Linked DNA regions of Homo sapiens: region 1 is linked to region 2. The links come from fine-mapping of genetic effects on gene expression. A gene starts in region 2. The other region holds a variant in brackets. All regions are shown on one strand. Distances are between the middles of the regions.

What was found.
Region 1: its variant is fine-mapped to the expression of TMEM120A in whole blood (TOPMed, PIP above 0.99).

What each region holds. Positions count from the first base shown.
Region 1 is chr7:75,611,132-75,622,846 of GRCh38, forward strand. The region is part of intron 1 of HIP1 (huntingtin interacting protein 1); the gene reads right to left. Among named protein-coding and RNA genes, the nearest start is that of HIP1, 120 kb to the right of the region's middle. RefSeq lists enhancers at 328-901, 6,190-6,691. The variant C/T (reference allele first, on the strand shown) is at 6,880.
Region 2 is chr7:75,990,026-76,000,606 of GRCh38, forward strand. TMEM120A (transmembrane protein 120A) reads right to left here and starts at 4,570. Exons shown (of 12, transcript NM_031925.3): 1 at 4,465-4,570; 2 at 2,414-2,532; 3 at 2,119-2,235. The coding sequence starts at 4,545. It overlaps STYXL1 (serine/threonine/tyrosine interacting like 1), which reads right to left. Exons shown (of 9, transcript NM_001317785.2): 9 at 6,317-6,574. The coding sequence ends at 6,443. RefSeq lists silencers at 1,006-1,300, 4,292-4,351, 4,362-4,811 and an enhancer at 2,051-2,110.

The DNA of each region.
Region 1 (11,715 bases), 380 kb before region 2:
TGGTCTTGAACTGCGCCTGTTCTATAAAATTTTTTTAGAAAGAGTCCCAGGTACGCCAGGTGCGGTGGCTCATACCTGTAATCTCAGCACTTTGGGAGGCTGAGATGGGCGGATTACTTGAGGTTCGGAGTTCAAGACCAGCCTGGCCAAAATGGCAAAACCTTGTCTCTACCAAAAATACAAAAAGTAGCCAGACATGGTGGTGCGTGCCTGTAGTCCCAGCCACTTGGGAGGCTGAGGCAGGAGAATCACTTGAACTGGGGAGGCGGAGGCTGCAGTGAGCTGAGATGGTGCCACTGCACTCCAGCCTGGGTGACAGAGTGAGACTCTGTCTCAAAAAAAAAAAAAAAGAAAAAAAAAAGTCCCAGGTATGTGATTCACAGTCTCTTGAGAAAATCTACTCCCTTCCCCTCCCGGCCCCAGGCTCTCTGAAGGACATCATTTGGTTCTGAACTGTTCCCGCCCCGCCACAGGCCAATGCCTGGGGGCCCCTCCCAGCACCAAGGGCGGGCAGTGCGGGGCTGGGTGTCTCACCTCTGGAGGGGGCTCTGGGTTAGGGAACATCATCTGAGAACAGGCTGTTCTCTGGACTTCCCTGGAGTCACACAGGACCTAAGACCAAGCCGTGTCTCCCCTGAAAGGGTGGCATTGTCCACCACTTCCTGACCCAGCAGGCCCTCGTGTCCCCGGCTGGTTCCGGAGAGCCAATTACCAGCAGGCACCGCAGGAAGGGCGCCTTTCTCCCAGCCTCTCTTCCTCCCTCCCCAGCACTCCCCATCCTCCGCTCGCCTGGGACAGCCCAGCCAGGCAGTGGCCAATGGGAAACCCTCTGGCCTTGCTTGTGTGGGGAGCTGGGCCTGGGCCTGGCCTGTGGGCCCAGTTGGACACTGTCAGGTCACATACACACAGCTCTTGGCAGAAGCCCAGCCCTCGGGCTGCCAAGGCCAGGCTGGCTCACAAAGGTCCCACGGCAGGAGCAGGCACGGGGATGTGCCCCGGGTGGGGGTGGCAGGTCCCCAGGCAAGGGGCCAGAGAAGGAAAACCTGAGAACAGGCAGCACAGATGGGAAAGGAGAAGGGCAAAACAAAGGCAGAGGAGGCCGGGCACGGTGGCTCCACCTGTAATCCCAGCACTTTGGGAGGCGGAGGTGGGCGGATCACCCAAAGTCAGGAGCTCCAGACCAGCCTGGCCGACATGGTGAAATCCCATCTCTACTAAAAATACAAAATTAGCCAGGGGTGGTGGCGCGTACCTGTAGTCCCAGCTACTCAGGAGGCTGAGGCAGGAGAATCACTTGAACCCACGAGGTGGAGGTTGCAGTGAGCCGAATTCGCGCCACTGCACTCCAGCCTGGGTGACGAGAGAAACTCTGTCTCACAAAAAAAATAAAATAAAGGCTGGGCGCGGTGGCTCATGCCCGTAATCCCTGAACTTTGGGAGGCCGAGGCGGGTGGATCACCTGAGGTCAGGAGTTCAAGACCAGCCTGACCAACATGGTGAAACCCTATCTCTACTAAAAATACAAAAATTAGCCAGGCCTGGTGGTGGGCGCCTGTAATTCCAGCTACTCAGGAGGCTGAGGCAGGAGAATCGCTTGAACCCAGGAGATGGAGGTTGCAGTGAGCTGAGATCGTGCCATTGCACTCCAGCCTGGGCAACAAGAGTGAAACTCCATCTCAAATAATAATAATAATAATTTTTTTAAAAAGAGGCTGTAATCCCAGTACTTTGAGAGGCCGAGGCAGGCAGATCACTTGAGGCCAGGAGTTCAAGACAAGCCTGGCCAACATGGTGAAACTCCGTCTCTACTAAAAATACAAAAATTAGCTGGGCATGGTGGCAGGTGCCTGTAATCCCAGCTACTCAGGAGACTGAGGTGGGAGGATGGCTTGAGCCCAGAAGTTCAAGGTTGCAGTGAGCTATGATCATACCACTGCACCACTCCAACTTGGGTCACACACACACACACACACACATGCACACAAAAGAAAGAAAAGAAAACTAGAAAGAAAGAAAAGAAAATTGGCCATGGCAGGTTGCAGTACAGGTGGCAATAGCTCAGGTTAACAGCTGGGACCTACCACCTGAGTGAGGATGACAGGGAGAGTACAGAACCAAATGGAGATCAGGTGAGCCTGGGAGAGTAGAGGGACAGGTGAGGCATGAAAGCCAAACAGAGCGTCCCCACCGTGGGGAGCCTTCTGTGCTCCGTGAGACTGCTCTGGTCCTAGCTACAACACTTGGAATTTGCTGCCCAACATCAGGGTCTTTTTAATTCTTCTCTTGATCAAAAATAATAATAATCATCATAGAGCCATTGTCACCAGATTAGTGGTAGTAGCAGGAGCCACTGACCCTCACTTGGGCCTCTTCCTCCTCCCAGGCACTGCACTGGTAATTTACTTCTCATCCGCCTTTGGTCCCTAGAGGGCAAGAAATCTGGGCCCCTATTTTCCAAGACAAGCTACTTGCAAGTAGTACAGCCAGCAAGAAGTGGAGCCAGAATTCAAACCCAGGTCCATCTGAGAGCGCCTCCTCTCCCACACCGTGCTGCCTTCTGTAACTGCCAGGGTCCAACACAAACCTGTTGCCAACCAACGTCCTCCACCCTACTGTCTGCCTCACCTTCTGTTGCCCAGGCTGGAGTACAGTGGTGCAAACGTGGCTCACTACAGCCTCAACCTCCTGGATTCGAGCAATCTCCCATCTCAGCCTCCCAGGCAGCTGAGACGACAGGTGCATGCCACCACACCTGGCTAATTTTTAAATTCTTTTGTAGAGATGGGGTTTGCTATGTTGCCTAGGCAGGGTCTCCCTCTGTTGCCCAGGCTGGAGTACAATGGTGCAAACATGGCTCACTACAACCTTAACCTCCTGGGTTCAAGCAATCCTCCCATCTCAGCCTCCCAGATAGCTGAGACGACAGGTGTATGCCACCACACCTGGCTAATTTTTAAATTCCTTTGTAGAAATGGGGTTCACTGTGTTGCCTAGGCAGGTCTCAAACTTCTGGCCTCAAGTGATCCTCCTGCCTCAGCCTCCTGAGTAGCTGGGATTATAGGCACATGCCACCACACCCAGCTAATTTTTGTAGAGACGGGGTCTTACTATGTTGCTCAGGCTGGTCTGAAACTCCTGGGCTCAAGCGCTTTGGCTGTCCCAGCCTCCCAAAGTGCTGGGACTACAGGCATGAGCCATGCGCTGGGCCCTAAAATGGTGAATTTTATGGTATGTATATTTTACCACCACACACACACATAGACACACACACACACACACAGTTACAAGGTAGATAAGCCTCCAAAACATGCTACATGAAAGAAACCAGACATGAAATGGGACACAATGTGTGATTCTATTTGTATGAAGTGCTCAGAATGGGCAGATCCATAGAGACAGAGAGCTGACTGGTGGCCACTGGGGCCTGGTAGGAGAGGGGTGGGGAGTGATTGCTTAATGGGAACAGGGTTTCCTTTACGGATAGTGAAAATGTTCTGAAATTAAACAGTCATGTCGGTTGCACGACATAGCGAATGTGCCAGATGTTGCTTAATTATACACTTGAATTTGTTACAATAGCGAATTTCATGTTATATGTATTTTGTCACAGGAAAAAAAAAGATAAAAAACACTGAGAAACTGATTTTTTTTTCTTTTTCTGAGACGGAGTCTCACTCTGTCACCCAGGCTGGAGTGCAGTGGCGCGATCTCGGCGCATTGCAACCTCTGCCTCCCGGGTTCAAGTGATTCTCCTGCCTCAGCCTCCTGATAGCTGGGATTACAGGCACCCACCACCCCGCCTGGCTAATTTTTGTATTTTTAGTGGAGACGGGGTTTCACCATGTTGGCCTGTCTTGTCTCGAACTCCTGACCTCAAGTGATCCACCTGCCTCGGCCTCCCAAAGTGCTGGGATTACAGGCATGAGCCACCACGCTGGCCTGAGAAACTGATTTTACTGAATACCTACTACACGCAGGGCAAGGCTGCCACACAGATAGTAAGGCTCTTTGCCATACAACCACAAGAGGGCCTTTCACAGACAGTTGTGGACAGCCATGCACCTGCACATGGCTGCCAGGATCCAGGGCACCACACCAGGGGCTGTGAGAGAGCACACAGATGATAGGAAGTGGACCCTGTGGCCAGGTGTGGCAGCTCATGCCTGGAATCCCAGCACTTTGAGAGGCCGAGGCAGGAGGATCACTTGAGGCCTGGAGTTCAAGACCAGCCTGGGCAACATGGTAAGACCCCATCTCTACAAAAAATGAAAATTTAGCTGGGGATGGTGGTATATCTGTAGTGGTGGCTACTTGGGAGGCTGAGGCAGGAGGATTGCTTGAGCCCAGGAGTTGGAGGCTGCAGTGAGCTATGACTGTGCCACTGCACTCTATCATGAATGACAGATGGAGACCCTGACTCCCCACCCTTAAAAAAGGTGGATCTTGTCCTCAAAGGGACAAAGACTGTACTACTCCTTCCTGTCCTTTCCTTCCTTCTCCTCTGACTGTGCTTATGCCTGTAATCCCAACACTTTAGGAGATTGAGGTGGAGGATCGATTGAGCCCAGGAGGTGGAGGTTGCAGTTGAGCCGAGATTGTGCCACTACACTCCAGCCTGGGTGACACAGCGAGACTCTGTCTCAAAAAACAAAAACAAAAACAAACAAAAAATGGCCAGGCGCGGTGGCTCATGCCTGTAGTCCCAGCACTTTGGGAGGCTGAGGCAGGCGGATCACCTGAGGTCAGGAATTTGAGACCAGCATGGTCAATATGATGAAACCTCGTCTCTACTAAAAATACAAAAATTAGCTGGGTGTGATGGTGCGCACCTGTAGTCCCAGCTACTCAGCAGGCTGAGGCAGGAGAATCGCTTGAACCTGGGATGTGGAGGTTGCAGTGAGCTGAGATCACACCACTGCACTCCAGCCTGGGCGACAGAGTAAGACTCTGTCTCAAAAAAAAAAAAAAAAAAAAAGAAAAGATAAGAAAAGAAAAGAAAACAAAAACAAAAACAAAGTATCTCGTAACATCGTCCTAGACAAGAATGAGAAAGGACAGGCTGCTAGGGGTCCAAACCACCGCCCACCAGCCAAACCTGGCCTCAGCCTGCTTGTGCATGGCCTGTGAGCTAGGACTGGTTTTTGTGTTCTTGTTTAGGGACAGAGTCTTGCTCTGTTGCCCAGGCTGCAGTGTAGTGGTACGATCATAGCTCACTACAGCCTTGAACTCCTGGGTTCATGCAATCGTCCCACCTCCACCTCCCAAGTAGGTGGGCCTACAGGTGCGCACCACCACGCCAGGCTAATTAAAAAATTTTTTTTTGTAGAGACCGGGTCTCACTTTGTTGCCCAGGCTGGTCTTGAGCTCCTGGCTTCTAGCGATCCTCCCACCTTAGCCTCCCAAAGTGCTGGAATTACCGGCGCTAGCCACCATGCCTGGCTTTTTAAGGGTGGGGAGGAGGAGGAGGAGGAGGAGGAGGAGGAAGAGGAGGAGGACGAGGAGGAGGAAGAAATAGTAGCAGCAGGAAGCCACAAAGCCAAAAACATTTACCATCTGGCCCTTTGCAGAAAATGTTTGCTGGCCCCTGGACTAGGCAGGGCAGCCTATGAGGGTGGATGTCCACACATACAGAGGCTGATTACTGGCCATCACTTTGGGGTAAGGCATGCTGGTGCCTGAGCCTGTGTCCTCCTCCTCATGTTTACCAGGGAGGTATATGTCAGGCACAGTGATTGATCTAACTGATGCTGGGAACAACAGTAACTACATTTAGATGACTATTTTTTTTTGTTTGGACAAGGTCTTGCTCTGTTGCCCAGGTTGGAGTGCAGTGGTGCAATCATGGCTCATTGCAGCCTCGACCTCCTGGGCTCAAGCAATCCTCCCACCTCAGCCTCCCAAAATAGTTGGGAGCACAGGTGCATGCCACCACACCCAGCTAATTTTTTTTTTTTTTTTTTTTGAGATGGAGTTTTGCTCTGTCACCTGGCTGGAGTGCAATGGCGTGATCTCAGCTCACTGCAACCTCCGCCTCCCCGGCTCAAGCGATTCCCTTGTCTCAGCCTGCCAAGTCGCTGCGATTACAGGCACCCACCATCACTCCCGGCTAATTTGTTTTGTAGTTTTTAGTAGAGACGGGGTTTCACCATGTTGACCAGGCTGGTCTTGAACTCCTGACCTCAGGTGATCCTCCTGCCTCGGCTTCCCAAAGTGCTGGGATTACAAGCGTGAGCCACCGCACCCAGCCACTAATTTTTTATTATTTGTAGAGGTGAGGATCTCCCTGTGTTGCCCAGGCTGGTCTCGAACTCCTGGCCTCAAGCCATCCTCCTGCAGCGGCCTCCCAAAGTGCTGGGATTACAGGCGTGACCCACCGCGCCCAGCCTCAGCCTGGTTCCTTGCGTGAGTCTTGGTTTCTTGGTCTCCTTTTCCCCGTATGCCAGCTGCCTCCCTCCATAAGAGAACATCTGTGATGACCTTCGGGGTGCCCACTTAGGCTTTCAAAGGGGCCTGGAATGTAGGGCACAGGGTAAGAGACTCGGACACCAGGCCTTGGGGAAAAGGAGAAGCGGGCCCATATGCCCTCCTCTCACCCACAGGGAGCTGTGGCTTCGAAAGGGGCTCCTCCCTTGTAAGGCTGCTGCTCCTGTCGTCATGGAGGAAACCTTGGTTCTGCTTCCCTAGCACCCCAAACTGCAAAGTCACGCTGGCAGGTATTGCACCCAGAGGGCTCATTCCCCATTCATCATAGTCACTGGTTGGGCAAGTCACCCTCCCTAGAAAGCGCAGCCTTGGGTAAATCCACCAGACATATCCTGATCTTTCACTATTCACAGAGCCAGACTGGAGTGGCCTTTCGTAATGGCCCTGGCCAGAGCT[C/T]CCGGGGGAAGCCTTCCGGATAGGCAGCTTGTCAGCAAGAGTGGGAAACCCTGGGCTGCGCCCTCCCCACAAACCACCAGCATTGCCCAACTTCCTCTCTTCATGCCCTCTACCACCCTCTCGTTGCCCCAGCTTTCTTTCTTTCATTTTTTTTCTTGAGACACAGTTTCACTGTCACCCAGGCTGGAGTGCAGTAGTGTGATCTCGGCTCACTGCTACCTACCTCCACCTCCTGGGTTCAAGCGATTCTCACACCTTAGCCTCCCGAGTGGCTGGGATTACAGGCACGTGCCACCAACTCTGGCTAATTTTATATTTTTAGTAGAAACAGGGTTTCACCATGTTGGTCAAGCTGGTCTCAAACTCCTGACCTCAAGTGTTTCATCTGCCTCAGCCTCCCAAAGTGCTGGGATTACAGGTGTGAGCTACCACACGTGGCTAATTTTTGTATTTTCAGTAGAGATGGGGGTTTCACCATGTTGGCCAGGCTGGTCTTGAACTCCTGACCCCAGGTGACCTGCCCTCCTCAGTCTCCCAAAGTGCCGGGATTACAGGCATGAGCCACCGCACCCAGCTGTTTCCCCAGCTTTCTAACAGTGAGGTTAGTTTTGTCTCTTCTCTTTTATTAATATACTGCTACTTATCTCCAATGATCTGAAGACTCAAGGTGGGTGATGCCTGACTTACAGGAGATCCCCCAGCACGGGAACCATCCCTTATCCAGCTCTGGGTCTCTTGCAGTGTCCAATTTCTAGAAGTGACCTTTCTGTCAAGTGAATGAGCCAAGCCCCAGCCACATCCCAGCACTAGAAAACCTGATGCCTCTCCCTTGAGCACATCCTTTTTTTTTTCTTCCAAGTTTTTTTGTAGAGATGGGGTTTCACTATGCTGCCCAGGCTGGTCTCAACCTCCTGGGCTCCAGTGAGCCTCCCACCTTGGCCTCCCACCCAACATCCTTGACATCCCACCTTTTGTTCTATTTCTGCAGGAATCGCTGTGTGTAGAAAGAAAGCCTTTGGTCAGTGGTTCCCAGACTTGGCTAGGCCGGGATATCATCTGAGAATCCTGTACCCCGAGTTTGTACACACACCCCTAGATTCCTTTGCTCCACCCCCAAATTGGACTCATTTGGGCTCGGAAGGGCCCATGGCACTGTTAATTCAGGTGATGTTACAGAAGAACATTGTATGTCAGAGTCTAAGAAAAAATTCAGCTAAAAGTAAAAACAGTGGCCGGGCACAGTGGCTCATGCCTGTAATCCCAGCACTTTGGGAAGCCCAGGTGGGCGGATCACTTGAGGTCAAGAGTTTGAGACCAGCCTGGCCAACATGGTGAAACCCCATCTCTACTAAAAATACAAAAATTAGCCAGGTGTGGTGGCGTGTGCCTGCTGTAATCCCAGCTACTCGGGAGTCTGAGGCAGGAGGATTGCTTAAACCCAGAAGGCAGAGGTTGCAGTGAGCCGAGATCACTCCAGCCTGGGCGACAGAGCAAGACTTTGTCTCAAAAAAAAAAAAAAAAGAGAAGAAAAACAGTAACAAAAAGGAAGAATGAGAGCAAAGAATAAAGATGGTGGAAATGTGAAGAATGAAGTCAGTTTCTCAGCTCAGACAAGTATACCTTGATGTAAGTAAATTTTTTTCTGGAAAATGTGAATTGCCACTAAGGCCAAATTAGGAGATTATTATTCATTTCACAGAAGACATTGGCATTCGATACCCTTAAATAGCAATCTCCGTTAGTACATTTAAGAGAGGATTCAGTTTACAGAAGTGTGATTTATACAAAACCACATCTGTTACATAAAGCTCAGAAAAATAGCTCTCCTCCCATGTCATCTTGCTAACTATAGAACTGGCCCAGTATAGATGGTCACCTATTTTCTTCTAAAAGATACCACCCCTGCTCTCTGTCATCTATTTCTGTTTCACCGTGATCACGGGTAACAGATTCTTAGGGGCCACCCAGATCTCTCTCTGGTCTTCCCTAAACTCAGGGAACAACTGCTCTGAATTGTTTTCATATTCACTCATTCATTCGACATATATTTCTGGAAGGCCTATCATATGCCTGGCACTACTCTAGAAATACAGTGAGGGTGCGGTGGCTCATGCCTGTAATCCCAGCGCTTTGGGAGGCCAAGGTGGGTGGATTGTTTGAGCCCAGGAGTTCAAGACCAGCTGGGGGCAACATGGTGAAACCCTGTCTCTACAAAAATACAAGAAATTATCCAGGCGTGGTGGTGCATGCTTATAGTTCCAGCTACTTGGGAGGCTGAGGTGGGAGGATCACCTGAGCTCAGGAGGCAGAAGTTGCAGTGAGCCAATATTGCGCCACTGTACACCAGCCTGGGCAACAGAGCAAGACCATGTCTTTAAAAAAAAAAAAAAAAAAGGCCAGGCACAATGGCTCATGCCTGTAATCCCATCACTTTGGGAGGCCAAGGTGGGTGGGTCACTTGAGGTCAGAAGTTCGAGACCAGCCTGGCCAACATGGTGAAACCAGTCTCTACTGAAAATACAAAAATTAGCCAGGGGTGGTGGTGCATGCCTGTAGTCCCAGCTACTCGGGAAGCTGAGGAACAAGAATTGCTTGAGCCTGGGAGGCAGAGGTTGCAGCGAGCTGAGATAGCACCATTGCACTCCAGCCTGGGTGAAAGAGTGAGGCTCTGTCTCAAAAACAAACAAACAAACAAATAAATAAACAAAACCAAAATAAAACAGCAAGGAACAGAGATGACGATCTCTGTCCTCACGGAGCTTATATTTTAGCAGGGGAGACAAGCAGTAAACAAATCGGATGGCGAGAGGTGCTATGGAAGAAAGATAAGGGCAAGGATAGGGCTGGAGTGTTCTAGGCAGCATTATAACCTCCCAAAGGGTCACTGAGAAAGGCTGTACTGAGGTGACAGAGGGATACAGACTTTAAAGTGACGAGAGGCTGGCGTGGTGGCTCACACCTAAAATCTCAGCACTTTGGGAGGCCGAGGAGGCAGGACTGCTTGAGACCAGGAGCTTGAGAACAGTCAGGGTGACATAGCAAGATCCTGTCTCTACAAAAAAATTTAAAATGAAAAAATTAGCCTGGCTTGGTGGCAGAGGTGGGAGGATGGCTTGAGCCCAGGAGTTTGAGGCTGCAGTGAGCTACGATAGGGCCACTGCACTCTAGCCTGGGCAGCAGAGTGAGACCCTGTCTCAAAAAATAAATAACATGAAGAGGAAGTGAGCCTGGTACACACCTGGGGGAAGAGTTCTAGGCACACGAGCAGAAGCCCAGCTGGCAGGCGCGAGGAAGTATGGCTAGAGCCGGAAGTCAGGGGCAGGAGGGGCCAAATCCCTAGAGGCCTCGTGGCTCATGGTGAGGACTGACCTTTGTTCCACATAAGACTGGGGCCACTGGAAGTGGTTTTGTTTTTTGCGGTTTTTGGTAAAGACGGGGTCTTGCCATGTTGCCCAGGTTGGTCTTGAACTCCTGGCCCCAAGCGATCCTCCTGCCTTGGCCTCCTAAATTGCTGAGATTAACAGGTGAGCCAGTGTGCCTGGCCTCCCTGGAAGGTTTTGAGCAAAGCGGTAAAACGATCTGATTCAATAGGATCCCTCTGGCTGCTGTGCTGAGAACAGACTGCAGGGACCAGTGTGGCTGCAGGGACCACAGTGAAGACTCTGCTGCCTTCAATCAGGACAGAATTGATGGTGGAGGCAGAGGAGGTGTCGAGACGTGGTCGGTCTCTGAATTTATTTTGAAGCTAGAGCTGATGGGATTATCTGATGTTCTGGATCTGGGGTGTGAGGAAGGAAGGAGTCAAGGAGAACATCGTGATGATTTGCCTGAGCAACTAGAGGGACTGAGCTGCCATTAACAAGCTGGGGGGACCCATGGGAGAGTTGGTTTGGGGCTAGGTTAGACATGACACACCCACCAGGTATCCCAGTGGAGCTGTGGGTGAGCAGTGGGCTGTGCCGCATCTGGAGTTCAGAAAAGGTCTAAGCTAGGCCAGGTGTGGTGGCTCACACCTGTAATCCCAGCACTTTGGGAGGCCGAGGTGGGCAGACCTCTTGAGGCCAGTTCGAGACCAGCCTGGCCAACATGATGAAACCCTGTCTCTACTAAAAATACAAAAATTAGCCAGATGTGGTGGTGCACGCCACCCAGCTGACTCGGGAGGCTAAGGCAGAAGAATTGCTTGAACTCAGGAGGTGAAGGCTGCAGTGAGCTGAGATCATGCCACTGCACTCTAGCCTGGGTGATAGAGTGAGACTCTGTCTCAAAAAAAAAAAGAACAGGTCTGAGCTACATTTATAAATTTGGACGGAATGTAAGAGTGGATAAGAGCACCAAGGAGTGAGTGCAGATGAGATGTCTGGGGACAGCCTGAGGACACCCCGACGTTCAGGAGAGACAGGAGGCCAGGTACGGGCAGTGGCTCATGCCTGTAATCCCAGCACTTTGGGAGTCCAAGGAAGGAGGATTGCTTGAGCCCAGGAGTTCGAGACCAGCCTGGGCAACACAGTGAAACCCCGTCTCTACCAAAAATACAAACATTGCAAGTCTTAAAACCTGGTCTCTAAATAAATAAATAAGGATAGGAGGGAATCAGTGATGGAGATAGAAAAGAAACAGCCTGTGAGGTTGGGGGAAGCCAGGAGACTGTGGCACCCTGGAAGCCATATGAAGAAATGCATTTTGACCGGGCATGGTGGCTGGTGCCTGTAATCCCAATGCTTTGGGAGGCTGAGGCAAGAGGACACTTTGAGCCCAGGAGTTGGAGGCTGTAGTGAGCTATGACTGCGTTACTGCACTCCAGCCTGGGCAACAGAGCAAGATTGTCAAATAAAT
Region 2 (10,581 bases):
GCATGGTTAGGCAATTTGCCCCAAGGCCACAAAGAACTTCTGGGACAGCCATGCTTCTCCCTCTACAGAATGCTCCCGGCACAGTGCTCCCCAAGCAGGCCAGCTTCAGCCTCCACTGCCAACCCACCAGGCTGCGGATGTGTCCCCACTCAGCTCGCCATCTGGTTCCCAGCACTCGCCTCTCCACATCCTCTCCCCGAAACCCTCTACCCTGTCTCCTCCCACCTCGGGCCCCACCTGCAACACTGCAGAGAAGACAGCCTGACTCCTGCTCTATGGGGAGCACTATGCCAGGAGCACTGTGCCGGGAGCACTCCTCACTCTCATCTCTGCACCCTCCATCCCCCACTAGCCCTTCTCGCTCTCCCCAGGCTTCCCTCCATCACCTCCTGCCCTTCTCCTGGGTCTTTCCCCTCTCGGCCCCTCTTCTCAGCAGGTGGATGTGCTCGAGTCTTCCCAGAGGCAAAGTAACCCCACAAACAGGCAGTAGCTGCCCCTCAACCCAGTGCTAATTTCCAGTTCCTAGTTGCTAATTCTCTCCCTCCACTCACAGCCAAGCTCTAAAAAGTCTCCCAGAGGGCTGGGTGCGGTGGCTCACACCTGTAATCCCAGCACTTTGGGAGGCCGAGGCGGGTGGATCATGAGGTCAGAAGATCGAGACCAGCCTGACCAACATGGTGAAACCCCATCTCTACTAAAAATACAAAATACAAAAATACAAAAATTAGCCGGGTGTGGTGGCGGGCACCTGTAATCCCAGCTACTCCGGAGGCTGAGGCAGGAGAATCGCTTGAACCACGGAGACAGAGGTTGCAGTGAGCCGAGATCAAGTGACTGCACTCCAGCCTAGCGACAGAGTGAGACTCTGTCTCAAAAAAAAAAAAAAAAAAAAAAAGTCTCCTAGACTTGGCTGTCTCCCTTCCTTGGCTCTTCTGTCATCCCCAAGATCGACATCCATCCCCTTCCACCAAATGGTTCTGCCAAGATGACCCAACTTCCAGGAAGCGCATCCCCTTCCTTATCACAGGACTGACCCCAGGCTACGGACACTCCTTTCTTCTCCCTGCCTTCTGGGCCACGCCCTCTCCCAGCTATCTCCCTGCCTGCAGCCTCTGCTGGGATTTTTTGCTCAGCAGGGGGTTTTGCACTGCCCCATCCGTCCTCCTGGGTGACAGCTGCTGGCCTTTCCAGGTGCACATTCCACCGCCCCCGCCCGCCTACTGGGCTCAAGGCAAGAGCTGCAGCCCAGCAAAGCCTCTGATCTCTTGGCTGCCTCTCACCTCCCGCCCCGACCTCTGGCCACTACAAGTTCTCATGGCCCGTCCACCTGCTGCTACCTCTCGCCCTCAGCCCATGTGTCTGCCTCATTTTTTTTATTTATTTACTTATTTATTTTTTAAGACAGAGTCTCACTCTGTTGCCCAGGCTACAGTCCGGTGGTGCGATCTCAGCTCACTGCAGCCTCCGCCTCCCGGGTTCAAGTGATTCTCCTGTCTCAGCCTCCCAAGTAGCTGGGATTACAGGTGCATGCCACAATGCCCGGCTAATTTTTGTATTTTTAGTAGAGATGGGTTTTACCATGTTGCCCAGGCGGGTCTTGAACTCCCGACCTCAAGCGATCTGCCTTGGCTTCCCAAAAAAGTGCTGGGATTACAGGCATGAGCCACCGCGCCCAGCCTATTTGTTCTTTTTAAATAAATAGAGACATAGGGTCTCAGTATGTCACCCAGGCTGGTCTTGAACTCCTGAGTTCAAGTGATCCTCCCACCTCCATCTCCCAGAGTGCTGAGATTACAGGTGAGAGCCACCACGCCCGGCCCACTCTTTATTCTGTAAGACTCAGCCCACCCATCCCCTAATCCAGGAAGCCTTCTGCGACCTCCTGGACTGGGTCAGGTGTCCCTCACTGTGCCACCTCATTCCCCATGCTACAAAGCACCTATCACAGTGAAATGTCACTCTCAGCCAGGTGTCTCCCCTGAAGTCAGCACTGTGCCTCATTGCTCAGCCTGTACTGGGCCCAGGGAACATTTGCTGACTATAATGACCAAGAGGAGGCAGCACCCGGCTTCAGGAGTGGCTGTGAACTGAGCTGGGGGTGGCGGTGGGGGCCCTCACCCATTCTTCTTAGGCAAATAGGCCTCCATGTCAAAGAAGAGGCCTTGGCGCTCTTTCATCTGGTTCTCCAGCTCCTGTGCGGCCCCCTCGGCCTCTGCTGGGAGGGAGGGTTTGCATCTGCGGGTAAGGCCAGAAACAGTCAGGGCAAGAGGACTCCCAAGTGTCCTCCCTGACTCCCACAGGGGCAGAAGGGCAAACAGGGCCCAGAGAGGGGAGGGGCGGTGCCCAGGGTCTCACAGCGCCAGCCCTCCCACCCCACACTCTGCCCATGGCGGGTGGGGTAGGGGATCCTAACTTCTTCAGGGCGAGGGCCAGCTCCTGGAGCCGCTTCTTCTGCCGCGTGATGGAGCTGGTGCAATTGTTCTGAAGTTTGGTCAGCTCCTCCAGCTTCAGGCGGTAGAGCCGATGGGTCTCCTGGGGGCCGGAGGGGAGAGGCTCAGGCCAGTTGGGGAGCTACTGAGCCAGAGCCTGCAGGCAGGACGTGGCGCTCAGGCTCCCCCAGGGCTGCTGGGAGGGTTTCGCTCAGCGGGAAAGGAGGTAGAACTGTGCCTGCCCAGGGATGAGGTGGCTGTCTCCCCAAGGCAGGCAAGGACCTGGGTGTCCTCCTGTGAGCCCAGAGACCCCCACAGCACCCCTCCTCCAAAAACAGACTAGGTGTTTTTGTTTTTGTTTTTGTTTTGAGACAGTCTTGTTCTGTTGCCCAGGCTGAAGTGCAATGGCAGGATCTCAGCTCACTCCAACCTCCGCCTCCCGGGTTCAAACCATTCTTCTGCCTCAGCCTCCCAAGTAGCTAGGATTACAGGCACCTGCCATCATGCCTGGCTAATTTTTGTATTTTTGTAGAGACAGGGTTTCACCATGTTGGCCAGGCTGGTCTTGAACTCCTGACCTCAGGTGATCTGCCTGCCTCGGCCTCCCAAAGTGCTGGGATTACAGGCATAAGCCACCGCACCCAGCCAAGGTTTTCTTAGTCTCAGCCCATCTGCTAGTTGTCCCCACCCTACAAGGACAGACTCTTTCTCCTACCTTGAGTCTGGAGCTTAGGCCCCCAGGGCCACCTCCTGGACCAAGCAGGCAGCCCAGAGCCACCCCTCTATCCTCTCAGCTCCTCCTGCCTATCTAGCCTTCCAGTACAGGAGGAGCTCAGGTTCTCAGGAATCCCTGACATCTTCTTCCCAGGTTAAAGGTCATCAGGTTTCAACCCTAGAGCCTCCTGCTCTAAGGCCAGCCCCACTCCCTTCCCCTAGCACCTTTGGCCCAAGGATTCCCCAAGCACTTTGCCCTGGTAGGTGAGTCTCAAGAAGGCGCAGCCTAGAGATGGGGCAAGGGGCAGTGTGAGGAGAGCCAAGCAGGGGCTGTGGCCAGGACAGCGGCGGCCAGGCGGGGAGACTGGGTCTGCTCAGTCTCTGGGGAGAAGCACCAATGGCAGGGGCCTTGGCAGGGCCAGGGGCAGCTGGGTTTCAATGCCCACAGGAAGCAGTTGGAACCAGTCCAGGAGAGGCCAAGGGCTAACCAAGCCATCAGCTGGCCAGGGCTCTACTCTGTCTGGATCTTGTTTCTCATGCCCAGGAGGGGTCACCACGCCCCCTCGGACCCCAGCACGTGCCACTTCTGCCCACCCACAGCCACCGCCCTCTTCCCTGCCTGGATGAGGCCAACAGCCTCCTCCTCCCTGGCCTCTGGACAGAACAGCCACGGTGGCCCTGGGGAGCTCAGTCCAGACAATTCCTCCCGTAGCTTTCCACTGGCCTCGGAGGGACTCTGATCTCTGCCAGGCCAGAGCGTCCCTGCAGGGCCTAGCCCCGCCCACCCCTCCCACCCGTCCCACCCCTCCCCTGGTTCTCCTTGATGCAGCCACATGGGCCTGTCAAGTCCCCTCTTTCCTTCCAAAGGCCTCGGCGGCGCGCGGTATCCCTCTGCCTGGGGCGTCCCCCATCCAGGCCGAGGACACCCCCCTAAACGCTGCTCCCCCGACCTGGGCTGCCTCTCGGGCGCTGCCCGCTGCGCGTTTGCTGAGTGGCTGACCCAAGGCTGGGCCCGCCCGTGTGTGACTCAGGCGGCCGCTCTCTTCTGGGAAGGGACGGGGTCGGGGTCTGGGCCCCTTTCCAAGGCCCTCATTGGAAGCCGAGGTCGCCCAGCGCGATGGGGTCCCGCCGGGGTTCCCGGACACTGGAGGTGGTGGCAGTGGACACCAGGACCAGGGGCCTCGCCCCCCTTGGCAGTGACGCCAGGGCCCCGACCCCTGACCCTTAGCTCCCCACTGCCTGACCCAGGGCTGCCCGACCCTTGACCCTGAGCCAGCGAGACGCGGCTCGGGGGCGACCCGGCGTCCGCAGCGGCGCTAACCTGGATGTTCTGGAAGTCCTGCTGTAGATCCTCCCAGTCCCGCAGGCAGTCGCCCAGCGGGCCCGGGGGCGGGGGCTGCATGGCTGCAGCGCCAGTAGCCAGTAGTGGAGGACGGCGCAGCAACCCCGGCCCACCCGAGGCTCCTCCGCCACCGCCCCCGTCCGCTTCCGGGCTCGCGCCGCCACGGGCACCAATGGGGAAAGGCCACGCCCCCCACCCCAGCCAATCCGGGACAGGGGCGGGGTATGGGCGGGGCCGTATGCAAGGGCGGTTGCTAGCCCCGGGACTCGCGGCCTGGACCGGGACTGGGACGGCTGCAGCCCCCGGGCCTGGACTGCACTGACTGTGCCAGCCGCGTGGTGCAGCCAGCAGGGCTCTGGCCCGTCATGCTGAGAGCAAACCAAGGTGCAGGGAGGTGACACCTGCTTGCAACATTTTCGTCCTTGGGAAGCTGAGCCTCTTTGGGGAAGGGAGTTAGAGCTGCTTCTCTCGCTTGGATTTTTACAGCGGCCTCCTTTCTCCCTGCCTCACCTCCACTGTCCCTTCTCGCGGCCACCGGACTGCCCTTCCCAAAACACAAGGCTGATTCCCCATCATGTTCATGCTTAAAACTTTCCAGCGGCTGTGTCCTGCCTACCAGGAGGTCCCTAATCGGAGCTCTGCAGCCATCCCGGGCTCTGTCCCAACTCACACCCTGAGGAAAGCCAGGGCTGTGTGTAAAGCCGTTCCCCCTCTGGCAAAACCCCACTCCTCCTTGAAGGCCTGCCCTTCTGTTGAGGGGAATCCCCCACCCCCTCCCACCCCCATCCCTCCACAGAGCGCGCTAAGTGGTGGGACGGCATTCATCTCTCTGTTCCCAGCCCCACCCACGCGGTGGCAGGGAATGGTTGCCGAATGGACTTGGGGAAGGTCCTGCATGGATGGACATCCTAATCCCCTACCAGTCCCCTAGTCTGTGCCGTCTCCTGATGCCCAGTTTGTTCTGTGGGTGCTGCCAGCTTTGGAGAAGTGCATTTGGAAAACAACTTCCAACTGGGTGCCGTGGCCCACACCTGTAATCCCAGCATTTTGGGGAGGCCGAGGCTGGAGGATCACTTGAGCCCAGAAGTTCGAGACCAGCCTAGGCAACAGAGCAAGACCCTGTTTCTACAAAAATAAAAATAAATTAGCCAGGTGTGATGGTGCATGCCTGCATTCCCAGCTACTCACTCAGGAGGTTGAGGTGGGAGGATCGCTTGAGCCCAGGGAAGTTGAGGCTGCAGTGAGCCATGATTGCGCCACTGCACTCCAGCCTGAGAGACACAGCAAGACCGTGCCTCCAAAAAAAAGGAAAGGGGGTAAAAAAAAGGAAAACTTTTAAGACCTTAGGAATTTCTAGAAACGTGGATAGGGAGATGGGGGAGGGGGTGAGAATCTCTCCTTGGTGAACACAGCCAGGCAGAAATGAGTGGGGAGCAGGGAAAGAAAATCTGTTTCAAGGGGTGGATGGCAGGAAGCGCTGGGGATGAGGCAAGGGTGTGATCCCATTCTAGGAGCCTGGGGGCTAGACAAGGCTGGGCTTGGTATCTCTGGGACTAGGGGACTGCCTATTGGTGGCTATTGTGACATCCTCTGTGAACCAACACAGGCAACCTCTGGGTACCCCCAGGCAGCCTCCAAAGGGTCTAAGTCACCAGGGGGATGCAGGGCAGCTGCTCTAGCAGCCAGATGCTCTTCCAGAGGCAGCCTCAGGGGTGCAGTTGGGATGGCCCGCGACACCTCAGGGATGCGGGTTCTTGGTGAACCTGAGCAGGGCGCATCAGCTAGGTGGCGTGAACAGGCACTTGGGAAGAATCAGTACAGGAGGCTAACATGAGACTTTCAGGCAGCAAAGGCCTTCTCCTTCCAGACAAGCCTGGGTATACACACTCTGGCCCTCCACCCACAAAATGCCCCCAGGTGAGGCTCTTCAGTACCCTTCGGTGGGCCTCGGAGAAGATCAGTAGAGCGGATCCATGATGTTTGTGATGGAATCTCCAAGGATAGTCTTCTCCCATTCCAGCAGCTGGCTCACCAATCCCCGATTTGGACACATGTTGTTTTTGCACTTCTTGACATAGGCCCAGGACCTCTATGAATACAAAGAGAGAAAGTGAACTTCACGATTGGTCCTGGGCCCTTTCCACTTGGATCAGAGGCAGCTTTCAGAGACAGGAGGCACTTGCACAGTGCCAGCAACACGGCTTAAGGGCTGGATGCAGAAACAGGGCAGCCTGGCATGAATGCATCAGTGCTGGGAGTCATGGGAGCTGACTCTGCCTTGGGCAAGCCCCTCTGCTTCTAAATCTGGTGACAGAAATAATTCCTATTTCAAACAGCTTCTGGGAAGATTAAGACAATATACATGAAACCACCTGTGGATGGCAAACACTATGCCAAGCCTAGTGCAGTCTCAACAAAGGTTTGCATTGTGACTGGACAAATTAATGGAAAGAGGAAGAGAACTGTGGGCAAATTCTCTGAAGAAGAAAATTCAAGCTGCCCTCCTTCAGGCATCCACCTTAAAGTACAGGAAGTGTTGCTGCATGAAGGAGGGTGAGCACCTGGTCTCCATCTGGATTGAGGACAAACGAAAAAGGGAAAGGCAAGAGTGGTGCCTAAAACTAGGAACAGAAGGAAATGGCCAGGCACAGTGGCTCATGCCTGTAATCCTGGCACTTTGGGGGGCCGAGACGGGTGGATCACCTGAGGTCAGGAGTTCGAGACTAGCCTGGCCAATGTGGCGAAACCCTGTCTCTACTAAAAAAATGCAAAAATTAGCCAAGTATGGTGGCACATGCCTGTAATCCCAGCTACTTGGGTGGCTGAGGCAGGAAAATTGCTTGAACCTGGGAGGCGGAGGTTGCAGTGAGCCGAGATTGCACCACTGCACTCCAGCCTGGGTGACAGAGCAAGACTCTGTCTCAAAAACAAAAAAGGAAGGAAGTGATGTCAACCTGATAAAGGCCATATATGAGAAGCCCACAGCTAACATCACACTCAATGGCGAAAGATAAAGTTTTTCCTCTAAGATCGGGAACAAGGCAAGGGTGCTTGCTTTCATCACTTCTGTTCAACATAGTCCTAGAAGTCCTAGCCAGAACAATGAGGCAAGAAAAAGAAATAAAAGGCATCTACAATGGATAGGAAGAAGTAACCTTACCTCTGGTTTGAAGATGACATGATTTCATATGTAGAAAACCCTAAAGATTACACACACACACAACACACACACACAGCTAATAAATTCAGCAAGGATGCAGGATACAAAACCAACATGCAAAAATTAGTTGCATGTCTATATACTAAACAATTCAAAAAGGAAATTAAGAAAACAATTCCATTTACAGTAGCATCAAAAAGAATAAAATATTTAACCAAGGAGGCAAAAGACTTGTACACTGAAAACTCCAAAACAGTGCTGAAAGAAATTAAAGGTACAAACAAATGAAAAGACATCCTGTGTTCATGGGTTGGAAAGCTTAATATTATTAAGATGCCAATACAACTCAAAGTAATCCACAGGTTTAAGGCAATCCCTATCAAAATCCCAACAACATTTTTTGTAGAAATAGAAAAATCCATCCTAAAATTCATATGGAATCTCAAAGGACCCCATAAAAAATATTTAAGAAGAACAAAGTTGTAGGTCTCACACTTCCTGATTTCAAACCTTAGTCTAACAAAACTACAGTAATCAAAACAGTATGGTATGGACATGAAGACAAAGAGACTAGTGGAATAGAATAGCCAGCCTAGCCTAGAAATAAACCCTTACCTATATGGTCAAGCAATTTTTTTTTTTTTTGAGACTGAGTCTCACTCTGTTGCCCAGGCTGGAGTGCAATTGTGCAATCTCAGCTTACTGCAACCTCCGCCTCCTGGGTTCAAGTGATCCTTGTGCCTCAGCCTCCCAAGTAACTGGGATTACAGGCATGTGCCACCACGCCTGGCTCATTTTTGTATTTTTAGCAGAGACGAGGTTTTGCCATGTCAGCCAGGCTGGTCTCAAACTCCTGACCTCAGGTGATCTGCCCACCTCTGCCTCCCAACCTGCTGGGATTACAGGTGTGAGCCACTGCACCGGGCCTGTCAAGGAATTTTTGATAGTATGCCAAGACCATTCGATGGGGGAAAAGGACAGTCATTTCAACAAATGGTGCTAGGAAAACTAGATACGCCATGCAAAGAATGAAATTGAAAACAGGAAATCAATAGAGAAAATCAAAAAAACCAAAAGCCGGTTCTTTGAAAAGATCAATAAAATCGATACACCGCTAGCCAGGCTAACTTAAACAGAAGACACAAATTACTAATACAGAAGTGAAAGAGAAGACATTGCTACAGATCCCACAGACATTAAAAGGATAATAGAAGAATATTCATATCCACAAATGTGATTGATCAATTCCTTGAAAGACACAGACTGCCAAAACTCACACAAGAAGAAACAGACAATCTGAATAGGCCTACATATATTAAAGAAATTGAGTGGTGGCAGATGCCTGTAGTCCCAGTTACTCGGGAGGCTGAGGCAGAAGAATGGCATGAGCCCGGGAGGCAGAGCTTGCAGTGAGTCGAGATTGTGCTACTGTACTCCAGCCTGGGTGACAGAGCGAGACTCCGTCTCAAAAAAAAATAAATAAATAAAATAACAATAATAAATTGAATCAATAATTAGTAACCTTCCAAAACAGAAAGCACCCAGCCTAGATGGGTTTATTGGTGAATTCCACACATATAATGGAATATTATTCAGCCTTAAAAGGAAGGAACTTATATAAGGTACCTAGAGTAGTCAAATTCACAGAGACAAAAAGTAGAATGGTGGTTCCCACGGGGCGATGAAGAGGGGAAAGTAAAGAGTTGCTGTTTCAGGTTTGCAAGATGGAAAAGTTTGGGAGATTAGTTGTACAATAATGTGAATGTACTTAATGCTCCTAAGCTATACATTTTAAAATAGTTAAGATGGTAATTTTTTTGTTGTGTGTGTGTGTGTGTGTATGTGTGTGTGTGTGTGTGTGTGTGTGTGTGTGTGTGTGTGTATATTTTTTTTTGAGACAGAGTTTCGCTCTTGTCACCCAGGCTGGAGTACAATGGTGCAATCTCAGCTCACTGCTGCCTCTGCCTCCCAGCTTCTAGCGATTCTCCTGCCTCAGCCTCCAGAGTAGCTGGGATTACAGGCACGCACCACCACGCCCAGCTAATTTTTGTATTTTTAGTAGAGGGGGTTTCACTATGTTGGCCAGGCTGGTCTTGAACTCCTGACCTCAGGTGATCTGCCCGCCTCGGCCTCCCACAATGCTGGGATTACAGGCGTGAGCCACCGCGCCCGGCCTGTTATGTATATTTTAACCACAATTTTTTTTAAAGTGGTGTGAGGGGCAGAGCTGTGCAGTCAAAAGGCTTACTATGTCCTCGCTGGGTCAGAACAGGCCCTGGAGGAAGAATCGTAAACCACCCATCCCCCACCACCACCCCACACATCGCCTGGCCAAGATGGTGAAACCCTGTCTCTACTAAAAATACAAAAATTAGCCGGGCATGGTGACACGGACCTGTAATCCCAGCTACGCGGGAGGCAGAGACAGGAGAATCGCTTGAACCCAGGAGGCAGAGGGTGCAGTGGAGGTTCAAGAATCGCTTGAACCCAGGAGGTGGAGATTGCACCACTGCACTCCAGCCTGGGCAACAGAACAAGACTCCATCTCAAAAAAAAAAAAAAAAAAAAAAAAAGGACTTTCTAGCCTACAACTTCACCCCCAAAGTGCACATGGGGGCAACAACCGAAGCCACTGGCCAACGAGTTTTATTCTTTGTCCCTCTCCTTCCCCCAAAAACATCCCTGGGCAAATGTTGGGGCTTTGTAGGTCCTATCAAGCCCTCTGGGGATCACGAACAGGCTGTGACAGGCAGGGCAGGCCCTCGAGAAAGGTGCTGTGAGTTAGGAGCTCCGAGTTCCGCCTGGGTTTGCTGCGATGGGTCCCTGCTTCCCTCTCTTCTCTGGACCCTGCGCCCAAGGTACAGGGAGATAGACGGGAGTGGGTGGGCGCCTGTGCTGCAGCTCTGGGACTCCAAGCAGTTCTCCCTTGGGCAACA